Linked DNA regions of Homo sapiens: regions 1, 2 and 4 are each linked to region 3. The links come from fine-mapping of genetic effects on gene expression. A gene starts in region 3. Each other region holds a variant in brackets. All regions are shown on one strand. Distances are from middle to middle. Region 1 overlaps LNP1 (leukemia NUP98 fusion partner 1). Region 2 overlaps LNP1 (leukemia NUP98 fusion partner 1). Region 3 holds the start of LNP1 (leukemia NUP98 fusion partner 1). Region 4 overlaps LNP1 (leukemia NUP98 fusion partner 1).

Evidence for each region. PIP is the estimated chance that this variant, and not a neighbour inherited with it, causes the effect.
Region 1: its variant is the best candidate, but not a certain one, in a credible set for the expression of LNP1 in thyroid (GTEx, PIP 0.86).
Region 2: its variant is the best candidate, but not a certain one, in a credible set for the expression of LNP1 in visceral fat (GTEx, PIP 0.72).
Region 4: its variant is the best candidate, but not a certain one, in a credible set for the expression of LNP1 in spinal cord (GTEx, PIP 0.59).

Annotation. Positions count from the first base shown.
Region 1 is chr3:100,442,644-100,448,565 of GRCh38, forward strand. All of the region lies in intron 2 of LNP1 (leukemia NUP98 fusion partner 1), which reads left to right. Among named protein-coding and RNA genes, the nearest start is that of LNP1, 44 kb to the left of the region's middle. The variant A/G (reference allele first, on the strand shown) is at 2,774.
Region 2 is chr3:100,454,488-100,460,409 of GRCh38, forward strand. LNP1 (leukemia NUP98 fusion partner 1) reads left to right here. Exons shown (of 4, transcript NM_001085451.2): 4 at 1,290-1,832. The coding sequence ends at 1,439. Among named protein-coding and RNA genes, the nearest start is that of TMEM45A, 35 kb to the right of the region's middle. The variant G/A (reference allele first, on the strand shown) is at 3,029.
Region 3 is chr3:100,398,032-100,403,953 of GRCh38, forward strand. LNP1 (leukemia NUP98 fusion partner 1) reads left to right here and starts at 3,508. Exons shown (of 4, transcript NM_001085451.2): 1 at 3,508-4,408. It overlaps TOMM70 (translocase of outer mitochondrial membrane 70), which reads right to left and starts at 3,058. Exons shown (of 12, transcript NM_014820.5): 1 at 2,595-3,058. The coding sequence starts at 2,918. RefSeq lists enhancers at 1,476-2,395, 3,077-3,186, 3,237-3,286, 3,297-3,386 and silencers at 2,757-2,836, 3,447-3,526.
Region 4 is chr3:100,432,415-100,438,336 of GRCh38, forward strand. The region is part of intron 2 of LNP1 (leukemia NUP98 fusion partner 1); the gene reads left to right. Among named protein-coding and RNA genes, the nearest start is that of LNP1, 34 kb to the left of the region's middle. The variant C/G (reference allele first, on the strand shown) is at 2,817.

The DNA.
Region 1 (5,922 bases), 45 kb after region 3:
TGAGCAGAGGGGTGACTTTGAAAGAATGGGAGGCAGGTTGGCCCTAAGCTGTTCCCAGCCTGACTTTTCCCTTTAGCTTAGTGATTTGGGGGCCCCAAGATTATTTTTCTTTCACATTTCCCTCCTTTTTTTAAAAATAAAATCTTTTGGAATAAGTATTTTAGAAGAAAATGAGTCTCTGGTCTCAGGTTTCATCTGATCTCTCACAGATAGGATGGTTTATTCCTAGACAGGTAGGTCCTGAGTTGTTATGCAGGCTCATTTTTAGCAAGTTGTGAAGTCTCATGTCCTATGAAGAGAAAATAGGAGGAGGAAGGAAGAAAAACAACAACAAACAAAAGAACAATTCTGGAAAATCAATATTGGTCACATTACTCTGAAGTCCATACATCAGTAGGCAGGTATTAGTGGCTTATGTATGTAAATAGGTTGCTGTTATTTTCTTCTGAAGTTTAAGTTGTCTAGCTTCAGTTTGCAGGGCTTTATGAAAGCACAGCCTGGATTTTGATGACTCCAAATGAGAAAAACATGGGGAAAAAAAGAAGGAAAAAATGGAAAACAATGCTTTGAAGACTTGGAGCCAAGAAAATACAGAATTCGGTCCAAAATGTAGAAAATAATAAAAATTGAAAAACATTAGGCAAGACTAGAATCTAACAACAGGTGTGCTATAGTTTTTGAAACAATTTTTCTCTCTCCAGTTTCCCATTTTTACCAAAGACAAATCATGGTAGGACTGCTGTGCTTTATTATACTTGGCCTAATCATTTGTATACAGTTCAACAAGAATAATTATTTTTTACATAGGCTTTTAAATTGGCTTTGATGGAACTTTGTTCCATAGAAGGAATCTCAGATAAGACTTTTTTAAAAGCTGAGCTGAGTTGGGCGATCCTCTCCTCTTGAGGTTCTAAGATAAAACCTGAGGCTCTTAGGCCTATAAGAACGTTACATTCTTTACTTACCACAGGTCAGGAACCCCATACAGGAATTGCGTAGACAAGTTTGCGGCCAGTTTTCCCCAGGGATTTTAGTGGCTTTGTAAGTCAACTTTGATTCCTTAAAGGAAAGCACACCATTCCAGTCAAAGCCTTGGTAAAATAAGAAGTTTCTCCAATTGTGTCCTGTTGTAAATGAAAACAGATTCTTATTGCACTTAAGCAAATAACTGTATTGCCATAAGTTAAGAATACTCCCAAACAGTTTCCAAATTCTGGAGAAATCAGGTAGAGAGAAAACAAATATGCTCCAAATTTTGTTCATAGGAGTATACTTTACTCAGTTGTTAAAACCTATTGTAAATAGCTTAAAACTTTTCTTGACTCTGAAAAACAAAACAAAGGCTCAGCAGTGTTTTAGGCAAAAAGTTAAAAAGATTACTTCAGACTTCTATAATTAGTTTAGTTGATGAGTTAATTCCTGCTCTGCTTGATAGTCATAAACATTTCAGCTCTCCATGAGTCTTGAAGTTTTTCTTCTATTCTGATGTCACTGTCTCCAAAGTTATCAGAAACCTCATTCAAGAGCACCTGTTAAGAGTTTTATAGCTGATTATAAAACCACCTCCTAAAGAGGATCAACACAAGACAATAATTGTCCATGGATGACAAAAAAGTTGTCATAAAGACACAATTGACAAGGAAAATTGTTACTTATGTGGCACACAATAATTTAACCTAACAATTATAATTATTACTTATAATGTCCATTAAGTCATATCAGAATTATAGGAGTTTCCCATACTTCTGGAACACATACCAATAACATATTTATAGAAATACAGCCCTAAGAAAACCAAACACCATTTTATATTTGATAATGCTTCCTGTATAATTGTAATACCAACTAAGCCAATTATGTCATTTTTGGACTTTAGGGAACCTCATGTCTTAAAGGACTAATTAGGTCAGGAAAAGACATAATTTATTATTTGATTTGGAAAATTTGTCAAATATCCAAGGTTTAAAACACTTGATATCACAAAATAGGATCACAGGTCATTGTGAAATAAGTCATTTCATTTAACCAAAGTAATAACTCAAAGGATTTTTTTAAAACGGTGAAATCTTCATTCTTTGAGATAGGAGACTTAATTTTCCAAACAGTAAGCCCTAATAAAAACTGCATGAAGCCAATTAAATTTGTTTTTCAAAATTTTATAAACAATCTATAAAATTTTAATCTTGTCTGTAAGATATACCTTCCATAAGCCTTTGAAAACCTTTATAACCTTTATTAAGGCGTCAGCTAATGCTTCAAGAAAACCATGTTGATTTGACATAGGGGCCCATGTGCTGGTCTTGCATCAGTGTGCCTTTGACATTGATGATTAATTTATAGGGGAACTGGCTAGGTGCAGTGGCTCATGCCTGTAATCCCAGCACTTTGGGAGGCTGAGGTGGGCAGATCATTTGAGGTCAGGAGTTTGAGACCAGTCTGACCAACATGGTGAAACCCCATCTCTACTAAAACACAAAAATGAGGCAGGCATGGTGGTGGGCACCAGTCATCTCAGCTACTTGGGAAACTGAGGCAGGAGAATTGCTTGAACCCAGAGGCAGAGGTTGCAGTGAGCTGAGCTTGCACCACTGCACTCCAGCCTGGTAGACAGGGCGAGACTCTCTCTCAAAAAAAGTATAGAGAAACTGAACTTATTTTATCTCTCAAAATTAGCCCTTACAATTTCACACACCCACCTCTTCCTTGACAGTCCCCAGGCCTTGAGGAGTTGAATAGCTTTAATTTCTGGCCCTGGGTCTCAGGAATGCAGTTT[A/G]TTTTGATTGGCATTTTCTACAGGGCCTGAAGATAGGGCTTTAATTGCTGTCAGTGTTTAACATTTATCAGGACTTGGTTTCCTTTTTAGACCCAGGAGTCAAAGCCTGTAACTCAATGTCACAAGTATTTAAAAGTGTATACAGAGAGATACACGATGTAAGAACCTTAATTAAAAAACATTTTTAATCTCAGTTTATTTTAGCAAACCAAAACCTAATAGTATTATGACAACTGGATCATATCAAAGTTTTTGGTTTTTAAAAAAATATATTTAGAAAACCCCATCGTCTCAGCCCAAAATCTCCTTAAGCTGATAAGCAACTTCAGCAAAGTCTCAGTATACAAAATCTATGTGCAAAAATCATGAAGATTCCCATATGCCATTAACAGACAAACAGAGAGACAAATCATGAGTGAACTACCATTCACAATTGCTATAAAGAGAATAAAATACCTAGGAATCCAACTTACAAGGGATGTGAAGGACCTCTTCAAGGAAAACTACAAACCACTGCTCAATGAAATAAAAGAGGACACAAACAAATGGAAGAATATTCCATGCTTATGGATAGGAAGAATCAATATCGTAAAAATGGCCATACTGCTCAAAGTAGTTTATAGATTCAATGCCATCCCCATCAGGCTACCAAAGACTTTCTTCACAGAATTGGAAAAAACTGCTTTAAAGTTCATATGGAACCAAAAAAGAGCCTGCATTGCCAAGACAATCCTAAGCAAAAAGAACAAAGCTGGAGGCATCACACTACCTGACTTCAAACTATACTACAAGGCCATAGTAACCAAAACAGCATGGTACTTGTACCAAAACAGATATATAGACCAATGGAACAGAACAGAGGCCTCCGAAATAACACCACACATCTACAACCATCTGATCTTTGACAAATCTGACAAAAACAAGAAATGGAGAAAGGATTCCCTATTTAAGAAATGGTGCTGGGAAAACTGGCTAGCCATATGTAGAAAGCTGAAACTGGATCCCTTCCTGACACCTTATACAAAAATTAATTCAAGATGGATTAAAGACTTAAATATTAGACCTAAAACCATAAAAACCCTAGAAGAAAACCTAGGCAATACCATTCAGGACATAGTTATGGGCAAGGACTTCATAACTAAAACACCAAAAGCAATGGCAACAAAAGCCAAAATAGACAAATGGGATCTAATTAAACTAAAGAGCTTCTGCACAGCAAAAGAAACTACCATCAGAGTGAAGAGGCAACCTACAGAATGGGAGAAAATTTTTGTAATCTACCCATCTGACAAAGGGCTAATACCCAGAATCTACAAGGAACTTAAACAAATTTACAAGGAAAAATCCAACAACCCCATCAAAAAGTGGGCAAAGGATATGAGCAGACACTTCTCTAAAGAAGACATATATGCAACCAACAGACACATGAAAAAATGCTCATCATCACTGGTCATCAGAGAAATGCAAATCAAAACCACAATGAGATACCATCTCACACCAGTTAGAACGGCAATCATTAAAAAGTCAGGAAACAACAGGTGCTGGAAAGGATGTGGAGATAGGAATGCTTTTACACTGTTGGTGGGAGTGTAAATTAGTTCAACCATTGTGGAAGACAGGGCGGCAATTCCTCAAGGATCTAGAACTAGAAATACCATTTGACCCAGCGATCCCATTACTGGGTATATACCTGAGGGATTATAAATCCTGCTACTATAAAGACACATGTACACATATATTTATTATGGCACTATTCACAGTAGCAAAGACTTGGAACCAACCCAAATGTCCATCAGCGATAGACTGGATTAAGAAAATGTGGCACATATACACAATGGAATACTATGCAGCCATAAAAAAGGATGAGTTTATGTCCTTTGCAGGGACATGGATGAAGTTGGAAATCATCATTCTCAGCAAACTATCACAAGGACAGAAAACCAAACACCGCATGTTCTCACTCATAGGTGGGAATTGAACAATGAGATCACTTGGACACAGTGGGGGGAACATCACATACTGGGGCCTGTTGGAGGGTGGGAGGCTGGGGGAGGGATAGCATTAGGAGAAATACCTAATGTAAATGGTGAGTTGATGGGTGCAGCAAACCAACCTGACACATGTATACCTATGTATCAAACCTGCATGTTGTGCACATGTACCCTAGAACTTAAAGTATAATTTAAAAAAAAAGAATTAAAAAAAAAATCCCTTTATTATGACTTACACAGACCTTTCACAACATGCTTAGATTTTCTGGTTTGTCCTGAGCATCCCTCTTCCTTAAACAACCAGTCATTTTACTCTAGGACTAAATTTACCATACAAGAGTCTTTCTCCTGTGAAATTATTTCTCTTTAAGCTTTCTTACAAGAAAATTCCCTCTTTATTTTGATAACTTTTTTTTACATCGCTCTTGTTTCCTGGTTCCTGTTACCTTGTTTTATATATGAGCTTTAAATAAGCTTTGAATTAGACAAAAATTGTTCTTCTTTTTTAAAATGACACACCTTTTCTTTAAGAAAGAATGTTTTCCTACAAATATATTTTTAACTGGAAAATACCCAAATAATGAAATCTCTATTCTTTAGATTAACTTCAGATTCTAAATTATGATGAGTTTGTCTACAAGTATTTATCCCATTACTTTTACCTAATTATTTTATTTTAATTGTTTACCTAATTTATGAAAACTGTGATAGTCATCATTTAACGTTATGGAACCACCATTGTAAGATTATAACTGAGACAGTGAAAAAGATTAGACTTCACTGACTCCATCTTGCTTTTAACCTCCTTTTAAGCTGTTCTTGTTTATTCCTGGGCATAGGCTGAACTAACTTTGGGAGAAACTTAGTTTATAATTTACTTTGAAACAAAGACAATAACAGTCCTTTGCCAAAACAAACCTTACTGCCTGTGGACTAGACTGCCTAAAACCACAAGATTAGAAGTTATGCTAATCTTACTAAATTCAAAATGTAGCTATTTTTATTAAACCAATATCAATGTCATATTTATTAAATATTACATGAGTAAAGATCATTCTGTTTTTGGCTGGGTTTATAGTTCTGTAACCCCTATGTCAAATTTTGTCACCTTATAGTATTTGGCAGGGATAAGCATAAAATTACTTGATTAATAAATGC
Region 2 (5,922 bases), 56 kb after region 3:
ATACTAATACCTAGATTTAAATTTTACATATTTTGACATAAAAAAGAACCAGAAACTGTTTCTGTGTCCTGATCATGACCAACAATGTTAAATTCTTTCATTTTGATATTTAAAAATTCAGTGGGCTTCTTTTGATAATTTTCACATTTAGCATCTAAGAGATGTGATAAAATGTATTTCAGGGCATTATTTACAAGCATTTCTCAGATAGTCTTTAATCATCACTCTATTTTCTCTTTCTTATACCATTTTGATAAGAGACCTTCATGACTGCGTTAACATTGTAGAGCGGCTGACACCACTGTGTTAAACAGATGCCTCAATAACTCTCAACTAACACGGCTGAGCAAGCATGACCTTGCTCATGTGACCACCACTCACCACTGCTTAACTTCACCTGATAAGCACTCAGGGGTTTCCCAACATTTCTAGTTCAAACAGGAGAGGAGTAATGATTTTGCTTGTTTATTTTTTAAAACAGAAGGATAAATAGATACGGTGGCCACATTTATCCATGCCATTGTTTTGATAATTCCTTTGAAAGGCACCCTCTGGCCATATAACTAAAGAAGCAACCCCCCCACCCTCCAGTAGGTCCCTATCACTCTGTTTACAGTTATCATTGCACTTATCACTATTGATTATTTTTTCATTTCCTTTTAGGTTTATTGATGACTGTCTGTATCCCTCCACCTAGGTGTAATATCTAGGAAGTAGGTCTATTTAGTGTTATATCTCCTGATCCTACAACAACAGTTTATGTTCAATTAATCAGTGAATAATGTGGAATCCTGGGGACACATGTCGGGGGGTGTTAATCTGGTTGGGCGTCATTCCTTAACAGTTCATTCTTCCCACAGTCCTCACATTAAAATTTAGTGCAAACTCTACTATTAAAGTAATTTAAGGGAGTGAACACAGAAAGCTAAGAATCATTCCATGTGTGATCTCATTTGCCACTTTCCGTTTCAAAAAGCACCAGGGAACTATTAATTTCATTGTGCCATGAAATCACACCCCTCAGTATGTTCAGAGGCAAAGAGTCATAGGCATGTGCAGGTTGTACTTCCTTCCCAGACCATCTGCTGATGTCCAACCCCCTCTATTCTTTTCTTTGTGACCGAAACCTTTAGCAACATCCTTAGGTTTATGCTAATTTATTTCTAGAAACCAAGAGGTGGAAGTCTGCTAAACCATCAGGGCTTTCTCCATGTCTGATTATTAAGAGAAATGTGGAGTGTTGTCAGCTGCTTGTGCATTTTTACCTGTTTCTGATCTTTCCCTTTCAGGGACCTGAAAGCAGAAAGGAGAGAAATGAAAGAGAATGCCTGAGGATGGAGATAAAATCCCGAAAGAAAGTAGAGGAAGAAAGGAGCTCTAGGAAAGAAGAGCATGGAGAAGCACACATGGCTCCCCTGTTTGAAAAAGGGCCTGAATAATACTCTGCTTCTGCCTCATGACATCAGATGCTACTGTTTTGGTTTTTTTCTTTGAGCCCCAATTCACCATTTCAGGATGTGGATGGGGGCGGGGTTGGGGGTAAAAACAGCTATAAAAAGCAACTGCAGATGCTGACTGACTGCAGTGGGCAGGGTATGTAGCTGCTCCAAGATGACTTGCATCATACCCCAATTACTGCTGGCATCTTAGTTGAGAGTATAATCTGCTTGGTTGCCTTTTTATGGGAATAAAGAGAATAAAAGGTATTTTAATAGAATAAAGAAAAATTTGAAAATATAATGGAAGGTATTTAAAGAGCCACCCACATAGCTTCACCAACCCTTCTCACACATCAACTCATAAATCATCTTAAATAAAAGTCATTGGTATGACTCTTGAGTTTACTTTCTTATCCAGAAGTAATTATGTAAGTATGTCTAATGGCCATCATTTAAGGAGAACTGGTAATTAACATGCCAAGTACTATGCTGGATGCTTTAATGCATTACCTAAAATAAGCTTCAGCACTCTGAGGTGGGACCTTGTATTAGTCAGGATTCTCCAGCGAGAAAGAACCAATAGGATAGAGCTAAAGATAGATCCATAGAGATAGAGATAGAGATAAATAGGGATAGAGAATATATGAGAAGGGATTTATTAGGGGAATTGGCTAACATGATTATGGAGGCAGAGAAATCCCAACATAAACTGTCTCCAAGCTGGAGAACCAAGGAAGCTGGTAGTGTGGCTCAGTTCAAGTTCAAAGGCCTCAGAACCAGGGAAGCCAGTAGGGTGGCTTAGTCCAAATTTGAAAGCCTCAGAAACAGGGAAGCTGATTATATAACTTTCAGTTCTAGGTTGAAGGTAGGGTAGGGGAGAGTCACTGGCACAAGTCCCTGACTCCGAAGGCCACATGGAACCTGCAGTTCTAATATCCAAGGCAGGAAAGAAGGGCATCCTAGCTTTGAGGGAGATGGAGAGAGAGAGAGAAAGAGAGAGAGAGACAGAGAGAGAGAGAGAGAGAGAGAGAGGCAGAAAATTCTCCTTTCCTCTGCCTTTTTTATCTATCCAGGTCTTCAGCCAATTGGATGGTGCCTGCCCACAATGGGTGAGGGTGGATCTTCCTTATTCAGTCCACTGATTCAAATGCCAATCTCTTCCAGAATCACTTTAACAGACACATCTGTGCAGAAAGAAATAATGCTTTACCAGCTGTCTGGGTGCCCCTTAATCCAGTCAAGCTGGCACCTAACATTAACCATCACAGACCTATTTTTTTCTTCACTTTCTAGATGAGGAAACAAAGTTTAGAGAGTTCTGTACCTTGTTGGTGTGGTGGCAGAGTTAGGGCCAGAGCCCAGTTCATTCTGATGCCAGAGCTTATGGTCCTAACGTGAGGCAGGATGTTCATTTTCCTCTAGTAGCAGGTTCTGAGATAGTCTGTGTGTGATGTGCATGTGAATGAGTGGATGTGAGTGAGAATAGCAGGAGTGAGGGTAGGTTGCAGTTTTGATTACACGGGTGTAGACTGATTCTCTGAGGTCAGCTTTATGCACTGGGTTTTAACTTTGTGGAACCATACTCTATC[G/A]ATCACTAATTGTTTTCCCCTGAAAGCAAAGATACTGGAGTTCTCTAATGCTCTCTCTGTTTATTCCTCATCTGTCTTAGACTTTCAAATGCCCAAGGGCAGCTTACCCGTTTTGTGAAGAGGAAAATCCCCCAAAAGTACTACTCATAACTAATACTGTAATTGATTGCTTATGCAAGCATTGACTTTGACTTAGTAGAAATAAAAAGGAAAAGGGGAGTGTCAGTTTGTTCTCACACTGCTATGAAGAACTGCCCAAGACTGGGTAACTTATAAAGAAAAGAGGTTTAATTGACTCACAGTTCTGCATGCCTGGGAAGGCCTCAGAAAACTTACAATCATGGTGGAAGGTGAAGGGGAAGCAAAGACCTTCTTCACATGGTATTAGGAAAGAGAGAGCTAGTAAGAGCAGGAAAAACTGCCTTATAAAACCATCAGATCTCATGAGAACTTATTATCATAAGAATAGCATGGCGGAAACCTCCCCCATGATCCTCCCACCTGGTTTCTCCCTTGACAAGGGATTATGAGGTTTACAATTCAAGATGAGATTTGGGTGGGGACACAGGCAAACCATATCATTCCATCCCTGGCCCCTCCCAGATCTCATCTCCTCACATTTCAAAACACAATTATGCTTTCCCAGTAGTCAAAGTCTTAATTCATTCCAGCATTAAACCCAAAAGTCCAAGTCCAAAGTTTCATCTGAGACAAGGTGAGTCCCTTCTACCTATGAGCTGGTAAAATCAAAAGCAAGTTAGTTATTTCCAAGACACAGTGGGGGTACAGGCATTGGGTAAATGCTCCCATTCCAAATGGGAGAAATTGGCCAAAACAAAGGGGCTACAGGTCCCATACAAGTCCAAAATTCAGTGGGGCAGTCATTAAATCTAAAAACCCCAAAACAATCTCCTTTGACTCCATGTCTTACATTCAGGGCACACTGATGCAAAGGGTAGGCTCCCATGGCCTTGGGCAGCTCCATCCCTGTGGCTTTGTAGCCCCTCTGCCCAGCCCTCCATATACCAGCTGCTTTCATGGCTAGTGTTGAGTATCTGCAGCTTTTCCAGGTGCACAGTGCAAGCTGTCAGTGTATCTACCATTCTGGGGTCTGGAGGATGGTAGGCCCTCTTCTCACAGCTCCACTAGGCAGTGCCCCAGTAGGGATTCTCTGTGGGGGCTCCAACCCCACATTTCCCTTCTGCACTGCCCTAGCAGAGATTCTCCATGAGGGCTCTGTCCCTGCAGCACACCTCTGCCTGCACATCCAGGTGTTTCCATACATCTTCTGAAATCTAGGCAGAGGTTCCCAAACCTCATTTCTTGTCTTCTGTGCACCCGCAGAACCAACATCACATGGAAGCTGCCAAGACTTGGGGCTTGCACCTTCTGAAGCAACAGCCTGAGCTGTACCTTGGTCCCTTTTAGACACAGCTGGAGCAGCTGGGATGCAGGGCACCAAATCCAAGGCTGCACACAGCAGGGGAGCCCTGGACTTGGCCCAGGAAACCATTTTTCCTCCTAGGCCCCTGGGTCTGTGATGGGAGGGGCTGCTGTGAAAGTCTCTGACATGCCCTGGAGACATTTTCCCCATTGTCTTGGTAATTAACATTCAGCACCTTGTTACCTGTGCAAATTTCTCTAGCCAGTTTGAATTTCTCCCCAGAAAATGGATTTTTCTTTTTTACCATATTGTCAGGCTGCACATTTTCCAAACTTTTATGCTCTGCTTCCCTTTTAAACATAAGTTCCAATTTCAGATAATGTCTCTCAACTTCAAAGTTCCACAGATCTCTAGGGCAAGGGCAGAATGCCACCAGTTGCTCTGCTAAAGCGTAGCAAGAGTGAACTTTGCTCCAGTTTCCAAAAAGTTCTGCATCTCCATCTGAGACCATCTCAGCCTGGACTTCATTGTCTACACTGCTATCAGCATTTTGGTCAAAACCATTTGACAAGTCTCTAGGAAGTTCCAAACTTTCCCACATTTTCCTGTCTTCTGAGCCCTCCAAACTGTTCCAACCTCTGCCTGTTACCCAGTTTCAAAGTCACTTCCACATTTTTTGGTACCTGTATCGCAGTACCCCACTCTCTGCAGTACCGATTTCCTATATTTGCCCATTCTCACACTGCTATAAAGAGCTGCACAAGGCCAGATGCAGTGGCTCATGCCTGTAATCCCAGCACTTTGGGAGACCGAGGCAGGTGGATCATCTGAGGTCAGGAGTTCAAGACCAGCCTGGCCAACACAGTGAAACTCCATCTCTAATAAAAATACCAAAAATTAGCCAGGTGTGGTGGCAGGCACTTGTAATCCCAGCTACTCGAGAGGTTGAGGCAGGAGAATTGCTTGAACCTGGGAGGCAGAGGTTGCAGTGAGCTGAGATTGCTCCACTGCTCTCCAGCCTGGGTGGCAGAGTGAGACGCCATCTAAAAAAAAAAAAAAAAAAAAAAAAAGAACTGCCCAAGACTGGGTAATTTATAAAGAAAAGAGGTTTAAAAGAGGTTTAATCGACTCACATTTGCACATGGCTGGGGAGGCCTCAAGAAACCTACAATCATGGCAGAAGGCGAAGGGGAAGCAAGGACCTTCTTCACTTGATGGCAGGAAAGAGAGAGCTAGCAAGAGCAGGGAAAATTGCTTTATAAAACCATCAGATCTTGTGAGAATTCATTCACAATCATGAGAACAGCACTGGGGAAACTTTCCCCATGATCCAATCATCTTCCACCGTGCAAACACTGCTCACTGCAGCCTCAACCTCCTGGGTTCAAGTGATCCTGCCACCCTAGTCGCCCCAGTAGCTGGGACCATAGGCATACACCACCACAGCCAGCTAATTAAAAAAAAAGTATTTGTAAGGTGGGGGGGTTTCCCTATGTTGCCCAGGCTGTTC
Region 3 (5,922 bases):
CCAATGGTACAGATCCCCTGGGATGAGGTGGGGTGGCTGAAACCACAATGAAATGTTAAAATCTAGTTTCAGCCGGTGAGGTGGCTCGTGCCTGTAATTCCTAGCACTTTGGGAGGCCGAGGTGGGTGGATCACCTGAGGTCAGGGGTTTGAGACCAGCCTGGCCAACCAGGCAAAACCTTGTCTCTACTAAAAATACAAAAATTAGCCAGGCATGGTGGCGCATGCCTGTAATCCCAGCTACTCAGGAGGCTGAGGCAGGAGAACTGCTTGAACTCAGGAGGCAGAGGTTGCAGTGAGCCAAGATCGTGCCACTGCACTCCAGCCTGGGTGACAGGGTTAGACGCTGTCTCAAAAAAAAAAAAAAAAAAAAATTTAGTTTCATGTATAGAAACTATCTTTATTTTTAATGTTTACAGAACTGAGAACTTTTTGGATCTTTTATTTTACCTACTATTCTTCCATGATTAAAACTAAATTAACAAACGAAATAGAAAATGACTGGAGAATTTCAGACATCCAAAATTGATGTAAGACAAGTGATAATTAATTCAAATAATCCTCTTGATAACTACTTTTAATAGCAGCAGTGAGCTATTATAAATGATCATAATGAGAATCATCAATTTTTAGTACTGAAAGAAACAGAAGAGATCTAATATTTTAATCCTCTTATTCTACAGGGATGACGCTAAGGTCAAGGAGACAAAATGACTTTCCCAAAGTGACAATGCTGGAGAGCCCACTATAAAGCTTACAAATCCTAGTTCTAACACAGTCCATAAGTTCTTCTACTATCCAGTCATAAACCTTTTAGAAAATAGGTAATGCTTCACTCTCCCATAGGAAAGATCATATGGCTTTCTCATGGCCTAGCACAATGCCTCACACACTGCAGATACTAGTTTGTTCATTCCTACACCAAAACTTCCTTTAAAGCTAATTTGACATCCTAGTAAAAATATCTTCGCCCGGGCGCGGTGGCTCACGCCTGTAATCCCAGCACTTTGGGAGGCCAAGATGGGCAGATCACCTGAGGTCAGGAGTTCAAGACCAGCCTGGCCAACACAGTGAAACCCCGTCTCTACTAAAAATACAAAAATTAGCGGGGCATGGTGGCGCGCGCCTGTAGTCCCAGCTATTCCGGAGGCTGAGGCAGAACTGCTTGAACCCAGGAGGCGGAGGTGGTGGTGAGCTGAGATCGCACCACTGCACTCCAGCCTGGGCAACAAAGTGAGACTCCATCTCAAAAAAAAAAAAAAAATTCAACCTGAATAGTATAATATGGAAATGACTTGCATACATATTTAAGTGTATACACTTGGATACAATTAGAAGTTACTTGACCAACTGTATATACTTATGTATAAAACTGGGAGATATTTGACCAAACGTTTCTCTGACCTCGACTTACTCTGGTACTACCATTGAACAACTCCAGACCCAGAGAAAATCCACCACACCCAATCCCAGTATTGTCAAATGCAGCCAGACTAATTCTCTGCACAGCTGTCAGATACCAAAAGGATTTAACAGTCAGTTCACCAAAACCATACAAAGCAGTTCACTAAATAATCCAATGCTTGGCCTCACATCAGAGAAACTGTATCATGCATATTAGGCTTGGTCATGTACATTTCCAGGTGAAATGGAAAAACTGAATTTAAGATGCTTCCAATCAAAAAGTTTAAGAAGTCACTCCCATTTTTTTTTTTTTTTTTTTTGTATGTGTGTGTAGGCCTGGACCTGGGGCAGGGGGCTGTGTGCAACCAAGCCTGGTGAGCATTGCTGTGGCCGCTACTCTTGTGCAGCAAGAGGGGACAGTGCAGTGCAGAGCGTTTTCTGACAAAGGCCAAGGGGTCCGGAGTGCAAAAGGACACCTTGGGGCTGGGGCATGGCAGGAGAGGTTACGGGCGCTGAGTGCTTGCAGCCAAGGGGGCTTCGGGGTTGCTGAGAGAGGACGAGCCTTGGGAGCTTGACAGTTCTGCTTACAGTTCAGAGGCTGTAAAACAAATGCCACTGAACACCATTTCACTCTTTAGAACCTGTGTAGTCTTTCTTTTTCTATGTAGAAAGCCATCTAATCGTTTTTGTTTTTGTTTTGCTTTTGTCAACTAACCGTCACTGTAGTTGCCCACTTACCCCCAGCAAAAACACACTCCAAAAGGGGGAGTGGCTCATTATTAAAAGGCTCTTAGCGATTAGGTTGTAGGCTTTGGAAATCACAGAAACAGTTCGTATCACGATGTACCAATTGTTAATCGAATTTAGCTTCCTTCACTTATTAAATACAATCATCACATTTGCAAATGCCCCACTCCCATCTACAACACTAGGGATAAATGCTGTGTCACTGAGAAGAAAAGCAAAGGATTTTTCTGAAACCAAAAGCAAACTGTCAAAGAATGCCAGTAACCTGTCATCGAGCTACTCTATGCCCTCCACTGGCAGCCAGAAATGAGTCTCCCTAAACCCAAGTGTTGTGCTGCCGCTTGGCAGCTTCCGTCTGATGGGAAGCCCCCTCACTGACACAACCCGCCAAGGAAAAGCTGCACGAGCCAGTTTCCTCCTCTACGGCCTGGGGCTGCTTCTCACCATGTCCAAGTGAGCACCGGGACCTTCAGGGTGTCCGCTGCCCGGGGCCGGACTGGCCCTGCCCTCCGGGGTCTTCCGTTCGCTGTTGCGCTTCAGGCCGCTGGCGTCGCCCCGGCCTCTGGCCTCCCGGCGCCGTTGCTGCCGACTCCACAGGTATATGGCACCCGCGCCCAGCAGCAGGGGTGCCCCGACCGCCAGAGCCAGCTGCCATCGCGGCAGCCCCCCCGTGCCCGGGCCCGCAGTCCCGCCGCCGCCCACCCCACTCCCGGAGCTCGGTACAGCGGCTGCGACCACCGCTGCCTCCACAGGTTTAGAGGCGGCCATGACAAGTGTCCTCTGCCACCGCCTCCCTGTCTGTCGCGAGCGCCACAATCACCAAACAGCGTGCGAAGGAAGACCGAGGGAGGGAAGGAAAGCAATGAGCGAGCGAGCACGCTAGGCAGAGAGAGCGGACGACAGAAAAGGGCCAGAGGTCACCGGAAGCCCAGGGCATGCCGGGCCAGACCTGGCCGTCCTTCTCCTCCAGTATCAACCGAAGAGGGAGAGGAGGGGCGGAAATCACTTCCGGGTTAAGGGAAAGCGTGGGTGTGAGTAGGAGTCTTCGGAAACCCTTTTTCTTTCTTTTCGCCCCGCTGCTGTTCGGGAGATGGACTTCTGGAGTCCCCGTCGTAGCTGGTGTTGTCCCCTCTACCTTCAGGAAAGAAGGGCAGATGGCCCTCTTGCCTACTGAAGCCGAGGAGGGGCGCGTATACAGCGGGCTAAGGGCGCTCAAGAGATCCGAGTGGAAGAAAAAGCAGCGGCACAGCACTGGAATGGGCGGGAGTGGCAGAAGAGTTGTGAAGGCTATTGGCTAGCAAGGGTGGTGGGCGGGGCGTAGACCGAGCTACCCAGTTTACTGGTCGATTTCGGATCCAGTTTTCCAGTTATAGCCACGTTGGCACCTCTTGAACCTCTGTGGCCGTTAGCACGGTTTTCTGCCCGCGTGCCCGAGAAACCAACGGATTAGAAGGACTTTTAAAGATGTGTGAGGAAAGAGCTCACCGCTGAAGAAGGCTGCTGCATCACTGAACTTCTTATCACTAACATAGCGAGATTTTAGTTTGGACGAATTTGAGGTTATAGGGGAGATAGCGATGGCAGAAGACTAGGTGGAAATGGCACATCTAGGTTGGCTGCAGTCGAAACGGTTTGAGCGTGGTCGCTGTGGCTCATCGTCGGCACCAATTAACGAAGCGATGACATCTGCGTTGTTAGGGGTTTCTTAAACTGAGTTGGTAGAAATGCGAAGCGTCAGGGTTCCCGCCGGCTTCGAGCCTTTCTTGGCGTATTTGTATCTTGAGCTGATTTCTGCGTCAGCCCACATCTCGCTCTGATCCGCACGCCCCCCGGGTTGTTTTGCAGTAGCAGTCTCAGCCCTCTTCTCGTCTCATTCCCAAATCGTAATTTCAGTTCACAGCTTTTTATCTATAATAGCTTTATCAACTCTTTTTCCGATGCTCTGCACCAGATCTCTTAAAATATAAAATTACCTTGCAAGGTATTGTTTGGAATACACGGTATTTTCATGAAGACAACTATTAATAGAAAAATCAGAGTCCAGAACTATGGTTCTCCATTTCTGGTATACTGGTTTGCAGAAGCCTTACATTAAGATTTCATAAATGATTGTTTTGCTGTTAAGTGCAACAACATCACAGTAGAGCTACATAAAGATTGAAAGGAGATATTTTATCAAGTGGCACCAGAATGGACTGATTAAAATAGAATGGCCTAATTGGAAAGAATTTCAGGATCACCGGTTTCTCCTGCTTCATGTAAGTTCCTATTAGTAAATTGCCTTCAGGCAATAGGGTTTCTTAGCAACAGACTAAAAAAATGGGCTAAAAATAGCAGTGGAATTGAGTTGATCGTTGCAGGCAATAGGCTTTTCTCCCCTCCTGATCCCCCAATCCCCAAAGGCAAATTTTCTGCCCCTTAATATAAGCTCTGCCTTGCCTTTTTCAGAACACAAGTTAGGATTTTTTTTTTTTTCTGAAATTTCAGTTTTGCTGTGGCCTCTTGGAGGATTGTAGAGTGCTAACAATTACAAACTTGATAGGAACTAAAACATATTTGAAGTTTTTTTTTTAAACCTTTTTCTTATTTATTGGAGTAAGCAATACACTGTTACGGTTAAACTCCAAAAGTTACAGAGTTTACTGTGAAAAGTCTTCCTTCAGTCCCTGTCCTCAGCTGCACAGTTCCCCTCTCCAAAGGGAATCGGTGTTATTTTCTTGAAACATTTTTTGGATTAATATTTATCTAAAGGCCTGATTTTGTTTGGCTTTATTTTTAAGGTTGGCATTAGTAAACGAATCTGTTCTGGTTACTTTTATACTTTGATAAACATCTCATTTCCATTCTCTAGCCTATGCTATTCTCTCATTTTCTCCTCCATTTCCTAATTGATGGTACTGTAGAGCCAAATAGAGTGTCGCTTACTGGCTTTGGGACCTTACTGATCTGATGCATGTTTTTCTAATCTGTGAAATGGTGAAAACATCTACCTCTCAGGCTATAGTAAAGATTTAATTAGAGAATATTTAAAGTTCTTTTGATGTTTGTTACAAAGCAATAGATATTTGATGATTAGTTCTCAGTTTTTCTAAATTTTAAAGTAAAGAAGTAAAATACTGCCTTTCATTTCTAAAAAATTAAAGTTCTGTATATGTGAACATAGACATTATCTTTTTCTTGGTAGATTAGTGGAACTCAACTGAAGAAGCTTTCTTCACCTTTGATCTGTATCTTAGGAGGCAGTTAAATGAGATAGTCTAATGGACTAGGTTGTGGAAGACCTGAGTTTTTTTTTTTTTTGAGATGGAGTTTCGCTCTTGTTGCCCAGGCTGGAGTGCAATGGCGCCATCTTGGCTCACTGCAGCCTCTGCCTGCAGGCTTCAAGCAATTCTCCTCCCTCAGCGTCCCAGTAGCTGGGATTATAGGCGGCTGCTACCATGCCAGGCTAATTTTTTGTATATTGGCCAAGCTGGTCTTGAACTCCTGACCTCAGGTGATCTACCTGCCTCGGCCTCCCAAAGTGCTGGGAATACAGGCATAAGCCACCATGCCCAGCTGACCTGAATTCTTATTCTAAATTTTAATACCACTGAGTTGTGTGTGTGACCATGGGCAACTCTGCTTTCTTTATAATGTGAGGAGGGGTGGATTAGATTATTTTTAAGGCTCCTTATTGTTTTAAAATGATGTAATTCTGTCCCTTCAATTGTCATTGCTACATGAAAGGCCTTTCAGATTGCTAGAGTTGGTAAATAGCTGGTTGACTGGTGTC
Region 4 (5,922 bases), 34 kb after region 3:
ATTGTCCGAGTATCACAGGGTGAAAGAAGACATGCCCAGTCCCCACACTTGTGGGACTGTCAGTCTAGTAGAAAATACAAATTTGGCAGAAAGAATTAGGTACAACAAAGGGTAAAGCTTAGGCCTTTTTATAGAATGCTACTTTTTCCCCAGACTCATTAGAACCTATGTTTGCTGAATTAAAGTGAATAAAGAAATCCCATGTTATTGTTCTGCTGTCCTTAGTGAAAAAACATAATATGAAGTCTCTCATTATTAAACTGACTTGCCTTCTCTCTCCAACATCATATGAATACAAAACTGAAATAAAACAGTTTCCCTGTCATTTATTTATTCTATGGAAGTGCATTTTTAATACTTTTAGTCTGTTTAGCTTTCTAGTCATCATCTCCTTCAGCTTAACATGGTTCTGTTAACATTGTTCTATGTAGTCTGGGGCTCGTGGAAGGGAAGACTGTGCTAAATGAAAGATCTTTGGGAGAAGAAACCGAGTTTATTGGCCCAGGGCTTTTGTAACTCCAGACGGACCTCCACAGTGCTTCTTCTATGCTCCACGGAAGTCACCATATGTACTTGCCCACATGATATACTTTGAAGGATACAGAATAAGTCTCTACCGATGTACACCCAAGATTTTTTCTTTTTTCTTTAAAGTTAAAGTTCTGGAATACATGTGCAGAACGTGCAGGTTTGTTACATGGGTGTACATGTGCCATGGTGGTTTGCTGCACCTACCAACCCGTCATCTAGGTTTTAAGCCCTGCATGCATTAGGTATTTGTCCTAATGCTCTCCCTCTCCTTGCCCTCTACCCTCTGATAGGCCCCAGTGTGTGCGTTGTTCCCCTCCCTATGTCCATGTGTTCTCATTGTTCAACTCCCACTTGTGGGTGAGAACATGTGGTGTTTGGTTTTCTGTTCCTGTGTTAGTTTGCTGAGGGTGATGGCTTCCAGCTTCATCTATGTCCCTGCAAAGGACATGATCTCATTCTTTTTTATGGCTGCATGGTATTCCATGGTGTATATGCACCACATTTTCTTTATCCACTCTATCAGTGATGGGCATTTGGGTTGGTCCTATGTCTTTGCTATAAATAGTGCTGCAATAAACATACATGTGCATGTGTCTTTATAGTAGAATGATTTATATTCCTTTGGGTGTATACCCAGTAATGGGATTGCTGGGTCAAATGGTATTTCTCATTCTAGATCCTTGAGGAATCACCACACTGTCTTCCACAATGGTTGAACTAATTTACTTTCCCCCCAACAGTGTAAAAGTGTTCCTATTTCTCCACAGCCTTGCCAGCATCTATTGTTTCTTGGCTTTTTAATAATTGCCATTCTGACTGGTGTGAGATGGTATCTCATTGTGGTTTTGATTTGCATTTCTGTAATGATCAGTGATGTTGAGCTTTTTTCATATGTTTTTTTGGCCGCATAAATGTCTTCTTTTGAGAAGTGTCTGTTCATATCTTTGCCCACTTTTTGATGGGTTTGTTTGTTTGTTTCTTGTAAATTTGTTTAAGTTCATTGTAGATTCTGGATATTAGACTTTTGTTAGATGAGTAGATTGCAAACATTTTCCCCCATTCCATAGGTTGTCTGTTCACTCTGATGATAGTTTCTTTTGCTGTGCAGAAGCTCTTTAGCTTAATTAGATCCTATTTGTCAATTTTGGCTTCTGTTGCAATTGCTTTTGGTGTTTTCATCATGAAGTATTTGCCCACGCCTATGTCCTGAATGCTACTGCCTAGGTTTTCTTCTAGGGCTGTTATGGTTTTGGGATTTACATTTAAGTCTTTAATCCATCCTGAGTTAATTTTTGTAAAAGGTGTAAGGAAGGGGTCCAGTTTCAGTTTTCTGCATATGGCTGGCCAATTTTCCCAGCACCATTTATTAAATAGAGAATCCTTTCCCCATTGCTTGTTTCTGTCAGATTTGCCAAAGATCAGGTGGTTATATAAGTGTGGTCTTATTTCTGAGTTCTTTATTCTGTTCCACTGGTCTATGTCTCTGTTTTGGTACCTGTTACCTGTTACCATGCTGTTTTGGTTACTGTAGCCTTGTAGTATAGTTTGAAGTCAGGTAGTGTGATGCCTCCTTTTTTTTTTCTTCTTTTTTCTTTTTTTTTGAGTTGAAGTCTCATTCTATTGCCCAGGCTGGAGTGCAGTGGTGAGATCTCGGCTCACTACAACCTCTGCCTCCAGGGTTCGAGGAATGCTCCTGCCTCAGCCTCCTGAGTAGTCAAGACTACAGGCGTGCACCACCATGCCTGGCTAATTTTTGTATTTTTAGTAGAGATGGAATTTCACCATGTTAGCCTGGCTGGTCTTGAACTCCTGACCTCAGGTGATCTGCCCACCTCGGCCTCCCAAAGTGCTGTGATTACAGGTGTGAGCCACTGCACCCGGCTGTCTTTTTTTTTTTTTTTTTAATTAAATTACCTTTCTCCATTGTATATTCTCCCTCCATGCTCTCAATTTACAGTGATGAAAGATATTTGTAATTTTAGTTTTTTATTGTTGATCTACTTTCAGATGGCTGCACTCTCATTCTTATAGTATCTCACTACAGGGCAGGTGGGGCATGGCCCTCTTAGGGGAGTTCTCACAAACCTGGGAGAGAACACATACTATCAAGTGTCATGATTGGCAGTGGCTTCTTGTATTTCAGATGTATTTCAGATGATATTTGAATTTAATTTTCATAGGAGGCAATTCCTTAATCCAAGGAAATGAAACTAATGATAGAAATTCAGGTACCAGTGAGAACTCTATAGGGAGCTTTTAGCATAATGTTCTGTGGACTTTTCTCT[C/G]TTCTTCTAGGTGCTAAGGTGGAGGAATTGCTAGAAAGGCAGTGGAGAGGAGTGGTCAGGAGCAAGTGCTCTGGAGCTGGCCTCCCGTGTTCTTCATTTACTAGCAGCATAACTCTGAGCAAGCTGCTTGAGCTCTCTTTGCCTCCAATTCCCCACATGTAAATGGGATTGGTGATCATAGTACAGACCTCATAAAGGTGCTGTGAATATTCAATAAGTAATGTATATACAGTGCTTTGAACAGTGCCTGGTACCTATTAACTTATTTATTAAAAAAATAATTTTTTTTACACTAAATGCATGCAGTGTATACATTTAGAAAAGAAGAGGGGACTTTATTTCTTGTAAAGCTTATAGCCTGCAAGTTGGCCATCCCACAGCCTGGGAAGCATAGCCTCCAGAAAGACTGGAGACAGGCACTTCAAAGGAGGAGGGGTAGGGGGTAGGAGCTTTATGCTGAACAGATTGGCTAAACTTCCACATGCAACAGTTTATAGGAGGAGCTGTGAATATTCGTGAAGGTGGTTCTGACACAGTTCTGTGGACACAGGAATTTTGAACAAACATACATGTAGCATGTATGGCCCATGTTCACTTTGGGATGGAGACTTAATATTTAAACATATTACAATTAGGCCCTATTCATGAAAAGATCTTCTTAGGACAGGAAGGTGAGTGAGTGTGCAGCCCCCATAAACTGGCTAGAACCAGTCCATGGTTGGTAGTCTTGTCAGGAGAAAGTTATTGAAATCAATCTCTTGTCCAATCAAAACTGTAGTAATGGCTGATGGAACAAGGGAATCAGCTAGTCAGCATCTGATGGAGCTGCAAATTGTTTTAATACTGCTTATGTCAGGGCCGGTGCTTGTTTAGCTGTTAGAGGAAAAGAAAAACCTTGTGGCGGTCAGAATATAGTTTATTCTTTAAGTGTAGGGGTGCACAACTTAACCCTTGCCTGGCATGGCCTTAGGTCCTGTTTATAATTAGGTATCTTATTGCCACAAAGGCTTTGTTCTGTCAGTGTTAGGATCTCTATTTTAACATTAATGCTGGTCAATTGTTGTGTCTAAACCATAAAAGACAGGGAGTACAACGAGGTGCATCTGACCTCCCATCCCGTCATGGCTCAGAACTAAGTTTTTAAGGTTTTTATGGAATCCCCTTGGTGAAGAGGGGGTCTGTTCAGTTGATGAGGGGCTTAGGATTTTATTTTTCGTTTACATACCTAATAAGATGCTTTCCCTCTCTCTTTTCCTTTTCCCCTCCCTCATCTCCTCCCTCTGCATCTCCTCCTCCTCCTCTGTCAGAGGTGTTGACACTTAGAAATTTTTTTCCAGATGCCTTCAGCTAATTACTGCACAAAATTCTAGAGTTTTTCATTTTCTCTTTACTTCATTGTCTTTTATGTTTCTCTTTTATATTACAATGGGAAGATAATTGGTAATTTTATATTGAACATTGGCAGGTAACATATGTTCTGTTATGGACTGAATGTTTGTGCTTCCCCTTCCCCCATTCATATGCTGAAGCCCTAATCTCCAATGTGATGGTATTTGGAAATGGAGCCTTTGGGAGATAATTAGGGTTAGATGAGTTCATGAGGGTGGGGTCCTGGCCTAATGGGATTAATATCCTTAGAAGAAGAGACATCAGAGAGCTTTTTCTTTCTCTCTCTATCCCCACATATGCATTTAAAAAAGCAGTCATGTGAGGTTGCAGTGAGAAGGCAGCCATCTGCAAGCCAGGAAGAGAGCCCTCACCAGGAACTGAATTAGCCAGAACCTAGATCTGGGACTTCCTAGCCTCCAGAACTGTGAGAAACAAATTTCTGTTGCTTAAGCTACTCAGCCTATGGTATTTTGTTATAGCAGCCCAAGCTGACTAATACATTTTCATAACAAGCATCATCACCAGACAGTGGAGAGCTAGTAGGGAAAACATTATTATACATGACCTAATTTAATGTCATTTGGGGTTATGATCTCAGTGGCATATGGTTTATATGGGCTTAGTTTGGCTACTGCAGCTTCGGGATGAGTAAGACAAGTCCTTGAATTTTGCTTTAGGAAAAGATTCCAAGTTCCTGAGGTGTGAAGCGTTATAAGCTCACAGGAGTTTCTTCTTATAGCTCTCCTCTGTTTGGCCACTATATAACTTACGATATGGTGTTGGTGACAGTTTTGCATTGATTTAGTGTGTAATAGTGTGACCAAGCAGGGTCTGTTCATTTCCCCAATTAAAAAAAGTTATTTTACTGATTAGTTTAAAACATTGTTTGGCTTCCCAAAAGGATGTACAGTGCATGGTTACTAAGCTTATCTTTATTATTTCTCAAAGAACTATCATTTTACCAGTTGAATATTTGAATGTTTTCCCTGATAGTGTTTCCAAGTATAGCTAGTCCACTCATTTGTAGTCCTCTTGGCTCTGATGATAGCATTAGACTATGTTATAAAATACTCTTCATATAAAATTCTTTCAGATGAATTCCTAAAGACCTATAGATTATTATTACTAACTTTATAATAGAATTCTGTTTAAATTGGTACATGGCTAAAAGTCACATTTACAGGCAGTTTCACATGGAAATAGAATAAAGTTGTTGCTGTTGTTAAAGATAAAGGATTTAATACTGCTAATCCAGGAACCAGATGTCACATGCTTAGGCATGTCACTTTATCTCTCTAATAAAGTCACTAGTCACATAAGTCTTAGGCAAGACTTAGCCTCACTAAGATTCATTTTCCTCATATGTAAAAGGGGAAGAATCACTCCCTTGTTGACTTTATTCTGAAGTTAGCTATCAAGGACCTGGCCCCAGAGTGCCAGGTACATACTGTGCACTAGGACTCAATATGGGTCTTACTATGCCAGCACCTGGATCTTTCTCATTATGTCTCATCTTGCTGTTAACCATTGACTACAGGGTGGGAGGGATACAATTGAAGGGTGATTGCAATTACAGCCAGAATAAAGAACATCGAGTAGTTAAGCTCTTGAGGTGAATATATTACATAACCAATTTCCCCCTCCCCAACTTTCCTTTTAGGTTTATTGTCACTTAAAGAAAAACAACTTTCTTTTTTTGGATCTGTTTTATGTTCAA